Homo sapiens: one gene and its partner. The protein of the gene in region 1 interacts with the protein of each later gene in a biochemical or structural test. Each region holds a gene or a part of one and is shown on either strand. Other genes may lie near its edges.

The links. Proteins that work in one complex are often made in the same cells at the same time.
Region 2: the proteins of ALDOA (region 1) and PLD2 form a complex in vitro, tested with the Homo sapiens proteins (one study listed by BioGRID).

Annotation. Positions count from the first base shown.
Region 1 is NC_000016.10:30,061,909-30,068,759, reverse strand, and holds the start of ALDOA (fructose-bisphosphate aldolase A), read right to left. Parts: upstream 3,001-6,851; 5' UTR 2,833-3,000; intron 1,876-2,832; 5' UTR 1,863-1,875; coding exon 1,722-1,862; intron 1,527-1,721; coding exon 1,394-1,526; intron 1,311-1,393; coding exon 1,099-1,310; intron 115-1,098; coding exon 60-114; intron 1-59. Other genes in the region: uncharacterized protein LOC112694756, read right to left, coding at 4,918-5,031. UniProt on the Homo sapiens protein: Catalyzes the reversible conversion of beta-D-fructose 1,6-bisphosphate (FBP) into two triose phosphate and plays a key role in glycolysis and gluconeogenesis. In addition, may also function as scaffolding protein.
Region 2 is NC_000017.11:4,810,152-4,817,182, forward strand, and holds part of PLD2 (phospholipase D2), read left to right. Parts: intron 1-650; coding exon 651-800; intron 801-4,266; coding exon 4,267-4,350; intron 4,351-4,481; coding exon 4,482-4,560; intron 4,561-5,324; coding exon 5,325-5,435; intron 5,436-5,612; coding exon 5,613-5,783; intron 5,784-6,390; coding exon of another isoform or gene 6,391-6,429; exon of another isoform or gene 6,430-6,468; coding exon 6,469-6,595; intron 6,596-6,785; coding exon 6,786-6,904; intron 6,905-6,924; coding exon of another isoform or gene 6,925-6,994; coding exon 6,995-7,031.

The sequences.
Region 1 (6,851 bases):
CCCAGCACCCAAACCTGCTCTGGTTGGGTTCGTAGGGCAGAGAATCAAACAGTTCTCACCTTGGGTGGTAGTCTCGCCATTTGTCCCTGCCAGGGGGACCACGCCCTTGTCTACCTGTTGGGGTCAGGGTAACAACATTAAGACACAGGAAATGACCTCTAGCACCCTTTCCACTGTCGCCCCGGCTGGAGTACAGTGGTGGAATCTCAGCTCACTGAAGCCTCCACTTCCTGGACTCAAGTGATCCTCCCGCCTCAGCCTCCTAGGTAGCTGGGCGTGCCCCTCTTTCCTCTTCTTTAGCCCCAGTCTTCCCCCACATTTACTTAATCCCTTAAACTGCATCTCAGGGCTGGCAAATATTTTCACTTAGTTACAATTAAAATATTTAGTTACTTAAGCCGGGCATGGTGGCTCACGCCTGTAATCCCAGCACTTTGGGAGGCCGAGGTGGGCAGATCACGAGATCAGGAGATCGAGACCATCCTGGCTAACATGGTGAAACCCAGTGTCTACTAAAAATACAAAAAAAATTAGCCGGGTGGTGGCGGGCGCCTGTAGTCCCAGCTACTCGGGAGGCTGAGGCAGGAGAATGGCGTGAACCTGGGAGGCGGAACTTGCAGTGAGCCAAGAGATCGCACCACTGCACTCCAGCCTGGGAGACAGCGAGACTCCATCTCAAAAAAAAAAAAAAAAAAAATTTACTTAAAATGTTTAGTTACTCAAATACTTAGTTACAATTAAATTAAAATATTTTCACTTAGTTCACTTAGTAACAATCCTCTGAGACAGGATACACTGGGATGTTATTTGACAACAGAAATGTTGAGTGAATTGGGTGTCAGACTGGGGCTCTGCCACTTACTCTGAGCAAAACACTTCACTTCCCTGAGCTTCTGAGATTTTCATGTGTAAAGTGGGAATGATACTGTTCTCTCAGAATTGTGAGGATTAAAAATGTCGAGTAAATGCCCTAAGCCTGAAGCAGGCTCCATGCAAGTCTCTAGGCCACCAATCCAGCATTCATTCCCTGCCTCACTAACCTGGATTTCCTTCCTCCACTTCCATCTCAAACCTCACGTCCGGAGGCCCTCCCCTTACCTTGATGCCCACAACACCGCCCTTGGATTTGATAACTTGGGGGAAGGGACGCCCATCATCCGCCTTCTGGTAGAGTGTCTCATGGAAGAGGATGACACCCCCAATGCAGGGGTTCACGCGGTCGTCAGCTGTCAGCAGCAGCTGGCGGTAGAAGCGCCGGTTCTCCTCGGTGTTCTCGGTGCCAATGGACTGCAGCCGCTTGGCAATGCTCCCTGGGAGTGTCACATGGGAATTAGGGGATCAGCCTGCCACTCCCAACCCTGCACCCTCCACCCATTCTGTCTCCTGCCCGCACCAGTGGACTCATCTGCAGCCAGGATGCCCTTGCCAGGTGCCACGATGCGGTGAGCGATGTCAGACAGCTCCTTCTTCTGCTCCGGGGTCAGTGCTGGATATTGGTAGGGCATGGTGCTGGTAGTAGCAAGTTCCTGGATACAGGAAACAGAGGGGAAGGACTAGTTAGCTAGGGTTTCCCATCATCTCCCGATGACCAGGGCCCCTCTCCTGGAGGTCAGGGAAATGTTCCCTACCTCCCCTGCCCCACACCCAGCAGGCCCTGGGGCACTTCTGGTCCCCAGCTCTCTCTTACGCCCAACTTCCCTTTGCTAGGCCTGCCCCTGTACCTTTCCTAACTCTGTCTGGTGCTGGGTGTTGCCCAGCTGAGGGTGGAGTTGCCCACTGGCAACTGGGGGAAAGGAAAAGGCCATAGCCATGGACAGGTGGGTCATGTTGAAGCTGGACCCTTCTGGCTTGCGCCTTGCCATGGGGTCACCTTGCCTGAAAACAAAACCGAACCGGAGTATTTTAGAATGTAAAGATCGTGAATCAAGCAGAGGGCCCAACACCCTCGTGGGAAAGGGCCCAGATATGGGAAAGGTCTGTGCTTCAAGCCACACAGCAACCCCGGAGCCAGATCTGAGATTAGAACCCAGCTCTTCTGACTGCCACTGGGGTGTTCCTTCCAATCCCCTCAAGATCCCAGGGCTGGCCCGGGCTCCAAGGCTTCAAGGACATCCCAAGGTCAGGCTTTTCCCCACAAGGGAGGGGGCGGGTGGTAGGAAAGGGGCATTAGGAAAAATATAAGAGAGCAAGGAGAAGCCCAGGAAAGGGCGGCGGAACAAGCCCTAGCCCGAGGCGAGGAAAGCGGTAAGCTTTGCCATCGTCACTGTTCCTACGGGGCAAGAACGTGGAGGAGCAAGCGCCTTCCCCTGAAAAATGCTCCCGTCGCTTCGCATGGCTGCAGCTGTTCCGGGCTCAGAATCAAGGTCGCCCGATAAGGAGAGACAGGGAAAGTGTTAAGGGGGCATCAAGCACCGCGGAGGGGTTTCCCTCCTCGCGAAGGGCGCCCCGTTTCCCAGGACAGAAACCAAGCTCCCACTTGCGAGAACCCTGGGGCTGTACATGGGCCGGCCCCCACCCCTCACTGCCTCTTAGGATCCCCGCCAGGGCTAAGGGGCCCTAATCCTTTGCCACAGGGGTCCCTGCAAGAAAAGGGGGAGAATGGTCCTTCATCTCGTCCGGCTTCCTCCCCCGCCATGACTCAGCGCGCGCAGCCGCTGCATTGCGCAGTTAGAGGACCTCAGGCTGGAGGGGCCGGGGAGCCTGTGTGTGCCTGGTAGTGGGGAGACGCTGGCATGGGATGGGGGAGGCCTCCACGCGGACGCCCAACCCGCCACTGCCCCCAAGATCCCTCTCCACGGTCCCTGGTCCCCGCACGTGAAGAGGGGCGCTCACCTGGCACAGGAGAGGGGCGGGTGTGCAGGGTGCGGCGGCAGAGGGCGGCGGGCTGGCGAGTGGATTCAAGGAGAGAACGCGGGACTCGTCACCAGGACCCCTTCTGCGGCGCGTTCCGAGAGGAACGCAGCCGATTTAGCCTCGGAAGGGGCGGCGCAGGAGGCGGGCAGGCGGAAGGCGGCGCCCGGCCTTTTAAAGGCACCACTCCGCCCTCCGCCGAGCTTTTTCCTTTACGAGGAGCGGGCGGCGTCCAATGGCAGGCGACGGACTGGGCTACGGGCCGCCCCCGAGAGGCGCAGCCCAGAGGCCGCGCTAGGAAGGGGCGGGCGCCGAGAACACGATCCCTCCCCACCCCCCTCGGACGTGACTCGGACCACATCCCGCGGGTCGCTAGGGCCCTCCCTTCTGCTCCTTTCCCCCAGCCTGGCGCGCTCTGGGGCGCCGTGACTCAGCCAGAATGTTGGCAATGGGGGAGGGCGGAACGGGGAAGTGGAGGACGCGGATGGAAAAGTCGGAAACGAAGGAAGCTGAGTTTCGCCTCCCAGGCCCAGCGCGCGCGGCCCGGGGCCGCCCCAGCTTCCGGTCTTCGCGGCTGCAGCGCGTGTCACCATAGGGGCCACATCGCGCAGTCGTGCGTTAGCCTGCCTCGCCCGCGGGCTGAATCGGCGCGGAGCCGACACCCTGTCACTGGCCCAGGCGTAAGGGAGGCGGAGGAAAGGGCATCGAGAGGACACGCAGGGAGCGCGAGAAGGCGGCGGAACTAGCGGCGCGCGGAGGCGAGACCTCCCCATCCGAGTTCCAGGCTGGCAGGCCGGGCTGGGTCGCGCATGCGTGCGCGCTCTCCGCCGGGCCGCCGCAGCCAGGCTGGTAGTCCTCTGCGCCACAGAAAACCAGAATGCGCGGCTATGCACCGGCCGCTGCTCGGCCTCTGGCATGCGGGGTCACAGTTCCTGCCAAACGTCTTCCTTGAGCCTGACTTCCTTCTCCAAAAGAAAATCCGTCCCCGAACTGATCTGCCTCCCAGATGCTGAGCCCCCTGCTCCTATCGTCCAAATCTCCCCTCCTCACCTGGACCCCATCTGGACCCTGTTGGCCCAACCCCAACCCCATCCCCACCCCGGCCCGGTCCTGCAAGGGGCCCACCTGCGGCGAGGCCGAAGGAGCCGGCAGAGCCTGGTCAGCAGCGAGTGAGCTAGGGGTTCCCGGGCTGGTTATAAGGCAGCTCCTGCCCGCCCCACATGTGTCCCCGATCTTCTCTAATGACCCCTGCCCTTTTCCCGCCACGGATCCTCTGGCAGGGACCTATATTTAGGGAAACCTGAAGCCCCTGACATTCACACTATCGTGGGGCCCGGCATGGGGGAAGGGGGAGGAAGACTTGGGTCGGCCCTATTGATGGGGAGGGAGCCCCTGCCCACTCACCGGTGCTTCAGAGGAAATTCTTCCTTGGAAATCCAGACGGAGGCCCTTGGTTGTCAAGAGAAATAAATCTTTGGCCAGGGACCTGTGGGAAGGAAAGGGGTGAGGGGACTCGGATCACGTGGCCTCCCTGCCACCCTCCCTGGCTCCTTCTCTAATCTCCCTCCTCCCTTGACTCCCTGCGGTGATGGTGGCTGTTCTGATTCTCTGGAGCCCTGGTTTTTTTTAAGAAGGAGAGTAGATACTGGCACTACACTCACCTCCTAAAATAACGGAGAGTCCGTGGACGGAGTGTGGTTGAGGCACCCCTGCGTACCCGGTACTCAAGGGCCAGACTCCTCCTATAACACTTGTGTGTGGTGAGCAGCGCCACCCCCCTGCCCAACTTCAAATAGAATCGTTGACGTGTGGAGGGGAAGGGAAGCCAGGGCACCTGCCCGAGCACTAGCCCCTCTCTTTTCTGGCCCTCCAGAGGAGCTGCCGTCCAGCCGGCCAAGAGTCCTGCCCTGCAGGGAGCCAGGCCCTGCGCTGCCACTTCCAGTTCCCAGGCCTGGGTGCTCGGCAGGCCATCTGTGGTTCCAGTGGCGTGGGGAAAGGCTCTTCAGGGAGGAGGGCACATGGGCCCTGGGGGCTGGCCGCTCCCCAGAGGGCAGGGGCCCTGGGTCCTCATCGGAGCTTGATCTCGAAGCAGAGACAGTTGAGGCTCTGGCAGTCGGGGAGCTGGCACGTACAGGCACAGTCGCAGAGTGGGCAGCAGCGGGGGCAGCGAGGTGCCCAGTCCTGAGGGAGGAGAGAGAGGGTTGAGGGAGGTGGGATGGGGCCACGTCTGTTGCTCTCTAAGGGGAGAAGGGAACAGAGAGGCCTGGGAAATCTCACTTGCCCAGTGGAACAGAGGGTACTGTCCATCATTCCCAGGAACAGTGCAATTCCCTGTGCTGTTGAAAAATCAGCAGTGAGTCCTTGTTCTGAACAACTGAGTTCAGAAGCTAGAAGCAATGATTCAGGGTTCTCTCCTTCCCATTTTATGGGTGAGGAGACTGAGGACCAGAGAGCAACTGGCCCTGGGTCCCGTGCTAGAATTTGGGCCTCCCGGTGTCAAGCTCAAAAGATGGTTCTGCTACAGTCCCGGGGTCTGTGCAGTTGAGGCAGTAGACAGAGAAAGCACACACATTTTTCTGTCCATCATGAAAATGACTTGTGGGCTTTATGGACTTCTTCAGCATGAGACCAAAATAGAGGGTCTCATTCACCATTTTTGAGCATCTACTCTGTGCAACGAACAGACCGCATTCATGAATGATTTTAAAAATCTTTACAGGTATCTTTGAAAATGGCAATTTACCTATTTTTAATTTTTTTTTTTTTTTTGAGACAGGGTCTCACTCTGTTGCCCAGGGTGGAGTGCAATGGTGCGATCTTGGCTCACTGCAACCTCCACCTCCTGGGTTCAAGTAGTTCTGCCTCAGCCTTCTGAGTAGCTGAACTACAGGCGTGAGCCACCACACCCAGCTAATTTTTGTATTTGTAGTAGAGATGGGGGTTTCACCATGTTGGTCAGGCTGGTCTCGGAACTCCTGGCCTCAGATGATCCACCTGCCTCAGCCTCCCAAAGTGCTAAGATTAAAGGAGTGAGCAACTGTGCCCGGCCATTTTTTTTTTTTTTTTTCCGAGATGGAGTTTCACTCCTGTTGCCCAGGCTGGAGCACAATGGCGTGATCTCCACTCACTGCAACTTCCACCTCTGGATTCAAGCGGTTCTCCTGCCTCAGCCTCCCAAGTAGGTGGGATTACAGGCATGTGCCACCACACTTGGCTAATTTTGTATTTTTAGTAGAGACAGGGTTTCGCTATGTTGACCAGGCTGGTCTTGAATTCCTGACCTCAGGTATCTGCCCGCCTTGGCCTCCCAAAGTGCTGGGATTACAGGCATGAACCACCGTGCTCGGCTCATTTTTTGTACTTTTTTTTTTTTTTTTTTGAGACGGAGTCTCGCTCTGTTGCCAGGCTGGAGTGCCATGGCGCGGTCTCGGCTCACTGCAACCTCCGCCTCCTGGGTTCAAGCGATTCTCCTGCCTCAGCCTCCCAAGTAGCTGGGATTACAGGCACGTGCCACCACGCCTGGCTAATTCATTTTTTGTATTTTTTTGTAGAGACAGGGTTTCATCATGTTGCCCAGGCTAGTCTCAAACTCCTGGGCTAAACCCACCTTGGTCTCCCAAAGTGCTGGGATTACAGGCATGCGCCACTGCGCCCAATCAATTTTAATGTTTTCAAAAGAATTAGATCTATTTGTTTGTTTGTTTTTTCAAACGGAGTCTTGCTCTGTCACCCAGGCTGGAGTGCAATGGTGGGATCTCAGCTTGGGGCAACCTCTGCCTCCCGGGTTCAAGTGATTCTCCTGTCTCAGCCTCCTGAGTAGCTGGGATTACAGGCGCCCGCCACTACACCCAGCTAATTTTTGTATTTTTAGTAGAGACAGGGTTTCACCATGTTAGTCAGGCTGGTCTCGAACTCCTGACCTCAGGTGATCCGCCCACCTCGGCCTCCCAAAGTGCTGGGATTACAGGTGTGAGCCACCGCGCCCAGCCTTATATTTTTTA
Region 2 (7,031 bases), on another chromosome or scaffold:
ATAGTTTTGAACCAGGAACTGGTCTAGCCAGATGCTTGGGACTGCTCTTAGACTGGGCCCAGAGAAAGGGGATTAGTAGAAGCCTGGGAAGGGAACTGCTGACATAAACGAAATTCCATTTGTTCATTTGTTCATTCAACAAACCCGAGTGCCTGGTACAATACTGGTTGCTGATGCAATACTAGGATCCAACTATGAGTAAGGTGGATATGGCCGGGCGCGGTGGCTCACACCTACAATCCCAGCACTTTGGGAGGCCGAGGCGGGTGGATCACCTGAGGTCAGGAGTTCGAGACCAGCCCAGCCAACATGCTAAAACCTTGTCTCTACTAAAAATACAAAAATTAGCCGGGCGTGGTGGTGCGTGCCTGTAATCCCAGCTATTTGGGAGGCTGAGGCAGGAGAATCGCTTGAAGCTGGGGTGCAGAGGTTGCAGTGAGCAGAGATCGCACCACTGCACTCCAGCCTGGGGGACAAGAGCTAAACTCTGTCTCAAAAATAAATAAATAAATAAGGCAGATACATACACGCCCTATCCCTGTGCAGTTGTGATTAGGGACTAAGGGAGGAAGTGGGAAAGGGGAGGTCTCTAGGCAAGATCACAGGTATGGAGGGCGAGGATTTATGGACATCTCATCGTTCCCATCCAGGTCCTTGATTCTCAAGTGCAGCAGCTACCGGCAGGCACGGTGGTGGGCCCAAGAGATCACTGAGCTGGCACAGGGCCCAGGCAGAGACTTCCTACAGCTGCACCGGCATGACAGCTACGCCCCACCCCGGCCTGGGACCTTGGCCCGGTGGTGAGACACTGACATCCCTTCTGAGCTTGTCTGTGGCTTTCTTGACCCCCTGTGTAATCTCTGAGTCCTTCATCCTCTCTTTTCTCATCTGAACCCTCCTGACCTCAATGACCCGCCCCGTGACTTCTTTAATCTTCCTGACCTTTGACATCTTTAACCACATTGATCTCTCTGATTTCGCGCCGACCTTTCTGACCCCCAAACTTGGTCATCTCTTCTGACCCTTGACCTCTCTAACCTCCTATAACCTTTTAAACCCCTCTCTACAATACTGACCCTCTCTGTTCTCCATGATCTTCTCAAATCTCTCTGATTTAGTCCTTCATTTAATAAACATTTTCTTTTCTTTTTTTTTTTTTTTTTTTTTGAGAGAGAGTTTTGTTCTGTTGATCTCGGCTCACTGCAACCTCCGCCTCCCAGGTTCAAGCGATTCTTCTGCCTCAGCCTCCCGAGTAGCCGGGATTACAGGCGCCCACCACCACACCTGGCTAATTTTTGTATTTTTAGTAGAGACGGGGGTTTCACCATGTTGGCCAGGCTCTTCTCGAACTCCTGACCTCGGGTGATCCGCCCGCCTCGGCCTCCCGAAGTGCTGGGATTACAGGCGTGAGCCACCGTGCCCAGCCTTAATAAACATTTTTCTAAGCACCTAGCAGTGCTGGCAGTAACACACAGTCCTCTCTGGGTTAGGGAAGTAGGTGATCAAATCGTGAAACAATGTGAACTTGCCGTACTGGTGATAGGTAGAAGGTGACACGCACAGACAGGAAGTACCTGGCCCAGCAGGGATATCAGGACAGGTTTCCAGGAGGTGGTGACCCTCAGGTAGTTTTGCTTTAAATCAGAGACTGACACAATATTAATTTTGTTGGTTTTTGTTGGAGACAGTGTCTTGCTCTGTCACCAGGCGTGTAGTGCAGTAGTGTGATCATGGCTCACGGCAACTTCAACCTCCCAGGCTCAAATCATCCTCCTGCCTCAGCCTCCCAAGTAGCTGAGACTACAGACACATGCCACCACACCCGGCTAATTAAAAACATTTTTTTTTACAAAAAATTTTAAAAATTAGACGGGTGTGGTCTCGAACTCCTGGGCTCAAGGGATCATCCTGCCTCGGCCTCCCCAAAGTGCTGGATTGCAGGCATGAGCGACAGTGCCTGGCCTATATACTTTTTTTTTTTTAAGGCAGAGTTTCGCTCTTGTTGCCCAGGCTAGCGTGCAGTGGCACAATCTCAGCTCACTGCAACCTCAGCCTCCCAGGTTCAAGGGATTCTCCTGCCTCAGCCTCCCAAGTAGCTGGGATCACAGGTGCATGCCACCACACCCAGCTAATTTTTGTTTTGGTTTTTTTTTTTTTTTTTTGAGATGGAGTCTGTCTCTGTCACCAGGCTGGAGTGCAGTGGCAGGATCCCACCTCACTGCAACCTCTGACTCCCCGGTTCAAGTGATTCTTCTGCCTCAGCCTCCTGAGTAGCTAGGATTACAGGCATATGCCACCATGTCCAGCTAATTTTTGTATTTTTAGTAGAGCCAGGGTTTCACCATGTTGGCCAGGATGGTCTCGATCTCCTGACTTCGTGATCTGCCCACCTCGGCCTCCCAAAGTGCTGGGATTACAGGCTTGAGCCACTGCACCTGGCTATAAACTTCTAAAACAGCCAAAACCAATCCACAGTGATGGAAATCAGATCAGCAGTTGCCTGTGGCAGGGTATGGGGAAATGATTGCCTATAGTGGGGCACACGAGGGAACATTCCAGGACGATAAAAATGTCCTATATTTTGATAGGACTGGTGATTGCGTGGGAACATACACTTGCTGATCCTCATGGAACTATACAAGATAAAGAAAATGCAGAACAGTCCAGGCACAGAAGACAGAAATAGCTCAGGGTGTTTGGGAACCACCAGGACATATTGTTGTTACTGAGTGAGGAGGAGCAGTCAGAGGAGAAGCTGGGAGTCAGTGGCACCTGATCTCACAGGGTCCCATGTGCTAATATCACAGGCACACAGGGCAGTCATGGAAGGAAGTTTTGTTTGTTCGTTTGTTTTGTTTTGGTTTGGTTTGGTTTTTGAGATGGAGTCTGGCTCTGTCGCCCAAGCTGGAGTGCAGTGGCGCGATACCAGCTCACTGCAGTCTCTGCCCCCTGGGTTCAAGCGATTCTCCTGCCTCGGCCTCCTGAGTAGCTGGGATTACAGGCGTGCACCACTATGCTCAGCTGATTTTTGTATTTTTAGTAGAGATAGGATTTCACCATGTTGGCCAGGCTGGTCACGAACTCCTGACCTTAAGTGATCCACCCGCTTCGGCTTCCCAAAGGGCTGGGATTACAGGCATGAGCCACCTTGCCCAGCCTTCCTGCATATTTTCACATGTGCATGCACGTGTTACTTTTGTTTCAACATAAATGAGATCATGCAACCTCTTCTGTGACTTATTTTTTCACTTAATACCTGTGTGAGAGATTAGACACTTATATTATTTCCCATTTTTCACTCTTACAAACAATGTGATGAACACAACATTTGCCTAGGCATTGTATTAGATGTATTCCTAGACATGTAATTACCATGTATATTTAATGATATTAAAGGGTATATGCATTTAATATTTTGATACTGCTGACCAGTCGCTTTGGCTCATGCCTGTAATCCCAGCACTTTGGGAGGCCGAGGCGGGTAGATCATTGGGGTCAGGAGTTCAAGACCAACCTGGCCAACATGGCAAAAACCCGTCTCTACTAAAAATACAAAAATTAGCCAGGCGTGGTGGCGGGCGCCTGTAATTTCAGTTACTTGGGAGGCTGAGACAGGAAAATTGCTTGAACCCAAGAGGCGGAGGTTGCAGTGAGCCAAGATCATGCCATTGCACTCCAGCCTGGGTGACAGAGCGGGACACCATCTCCAAAAAGCTATATATATATTTTTTGATACTGCCAAATTGTCTCCTAAAAGTTATATTCCCATAGTCTATGAGAATACCCACTTCCCCAGCATATTGAATATTGATATTGAATGTTACCAGTGATTTGAATTATTACCAATCTAATGGATTTTTTAAATGTAATTTCATTTTAATTTCGTTGTTTACTAGTGAAACTGAACATTTGCCACGATTGGCCATTTTAATTTCTCTGTGAACTGTCAGTTCTTACTCTTTGCTCATTTTTCAGTTGGCTCATGTGACTTTTTCTTGTCGATTTATTGGTGTTCTTTATGTATGATGTATTAATCCTCCTGTTCTTTAGTTGATTAGGTTATTGTGTCTTTTTGTAATTTTTATTTGTATTTAGCGCATATGGGCAAACACTATTTTGATGTGTCTGATACCACTTGTGTTCTCTGATCATTTCTGATCTTTGACCTTGCTGTCACCTCTGACCCACGACTGTCCTCCGGTCTTCACTCTCCAGAGCTTTCTGGCTTCTGACTCCCCTGACCTCCTTGGCTTGGCCTCCCCCCAGGTTTGTGAATGGGGCAGGTTACTTTGCTGCTGTGGCAGATGCCATCCTTCGAGCTCAAGAGGAGATTTTCATCACAGACTGGTGGTGAGTGGGAAAAGGCCCCAACAACATGGGGCAGGATAGAGCCTGGGGCAGATCAGCATTAGGAGGAGAAGGGGGGTGCAGCTGGTGGTCTGGGGCTTCGTTTGCCCCTAATCCACTGCCCTGAATCCCAGGTTGAGTCCTGAGGTTTACCTGAAGCGTCCGGCCCATTCAGATGACTGGAGACTGGACATTATGCTCAAGAGGAAGGCGGTGAGGAGAGTGGTCAGGCCGCAGGGGGAGGGGGTTGCCTGTGGGTGGAGGTTGATTAGCAGGGCTGCAGTGTGGGAGAATTAGGCAGTCTGAGGCTTCAGGGGAGGGAAAAGTGTCCATCCTGGCCCAGCACCTGTCAGACATCACCTCCGCCCTCTCCCTCTGCCCTAAGGAGAACTGACAACTTCCTCTTCATGCTCCCTCCACCTGGCAGAGACTTCCCTCCCAGTATACATAATACTTTATTGTGTTATCTGGGGGTATACATGTCTATCTCTCTCACTGGACTAGTTAATATCACTGTTCCACTACAAGGCACAGTACCTGCCATGGAGGGGGCATGTGTGGTGTTGATGGACAGGAAGAAGGATGCATGGATGATGCAGGGTGGCTGGGCAGGTGGATGGATAGAGGACAGAAAGGGTGATGGATGGAAGGATATGAGTTGGAAAGGTGGAGGGCTAGGAGGGTAGGCAGGTAGATGGATGAATGATAGACGGTACATAAAGGGATGAGTAAATGCTTGGGAAGATGGATGGATGGATGATGAAGGGTGGGTGGATAGATGTGTGGATGGGTGAGTGGGTGAGCACACAGATGACATTTAGTCTAAGTCTGTGGCAAGCAGCAAAGCAGGGCATATGTGGCAGAGCCTCTAGGATCTCCAGACAAGCTGGAGGGACACACGTGGAAAAGGTTTGGGAGTGTGGAAAGGGGCTACTCTGGGAGAGGCACTAGGATCTGATTCCCCAACTCACCACCAGGAGGAGGGTGTCCGTGTGTCTATTCTGCTGTTTAAAGAAGTGGAATTGGCCTTGGGCATCAACAGTGGCTATAGCAAGAGGGCGCTGATGCTGCTGCACCCCAACATAAAGGTGACTCTCGGCCTCAGAGACCCTCCCACATGACAGCCCTTCTCCCCACACTGTCCCAGCCCCCAGCGCTCCCGCTCCCTGATGGTCTCATCTTTCCATCTTTCCTCTCTCCCTCCCAGTACCTCCTGTTTTCCTTCACCTAAACCCACCCTCATGAACCCTCCATGCCTGCTCCAGGTGATGCGTCACCCAGACCAAGTGACGTTGTGGGCCCATCATGAGAAGCTCCTGGTGGTGGACCAAGTGGTAGCATTCCTGGGGGGACTGGACCTTGCCTATGGCCGCTGGGATGACCTGCACTACCGACTGACTGACCTTGGAGACTCCTCTGAATCAGCTGCCTCCCAGGTAATCCCCCTGAGGCCTTCCTGAGCACCCCCAAACTCAGATAAGCTCAATCAACACCATTTCCCAGCTCCAGCCTTACCCCCTCAGTCATTCCAGGCCCTGCCAACCTCAGGGTTCCTCAGACTTTCTGGGACTCCAAGAACCCACTTTGAAAGTGCTGTAACTGGCCGGGAGCCATGGCTTATGCCTGTAATCCCAGCACTTTGGGAGGCCAAGGCGGGTGGATCACCTGAGGTCTGGAGTTCGAGACCAGCCTGACCGACATGGTGAAACCCTGTCTCTACTAAAAATGCAAAAAATTAGCTGGGCATGGTGGCAGTTGCCTGTCATTGAAGCTACTCGGGAGGCTGAGGCAGGAGAATCACTTGAACCCAGGAGGCGGAGGTTGCAGTGAGCCGAGATTGTGCCATTGTACTCCACCCTGGGCAACAGAGCGAGACTCTGTCTCAAAAAAAAAAAAAAAAGTGCTGTCACCCACCCAGTCCTTTCCCCATTTTCACTGACCATCACCCCATTCCTCTAAAAGTGTCAAAGGCAACTGGAGGGGAGGGCTGGGGAATCAGACCCTCTGTTTCATTCTTCCTCTCGGTCTCTCTCACTCTTTCAGTGCTCCTCTCTTTGGCCCTGGCTCTGTACAGCCCCATGACTTCCCCTTGCCCCTGGCTTGGGTGTGTTCCCCCTACAGCCTCCCACCCCGCGCCCAGACTCACCAGCCACCCCAGACCTCTCTCACAACCAATTCTTCTGGCTGGGCAAGGACTACAGCAATCTTATCACCAAGGACTGGGTGCAGCTGGACCGGCCTTTCGAAGGTGAAGCCTCCCACCCGCCAAAGCCCCAGAGAGCTGAGAGCAGGGTCAGAAGCTGGGGCTGGTACTGAGAGTGGGATGAGAGGGGTCAACGGTGGTACAGCCCTCCCTCTGGCAGGCTCTTTCTCCCTGCCCCAAGTGTCCCAAGGAGTCCAGCCCTGACATCTCCCCTGACTCTCCTGGGACCCCCCAGATTTCATTGACAGGGAGACGACCCCTCGGATGCCATGGCGGGACGTTGGGGTGGTCGTCCATGGCCTACCGGCCCGGGACCTTGCCCGGCACTTCATCCAGCGCTGGAACTTCACCAAGGTGTTCATTCCCTCCGATAGGGGCTGGAGGTAGGGAGGGAGCCAGGGCAGATTGGCACCTCCTGCTGACTCTGCCATCCCTCCACGTCAGACCACCAAGGCCAAGTACAAGACTCCCACATACCCCT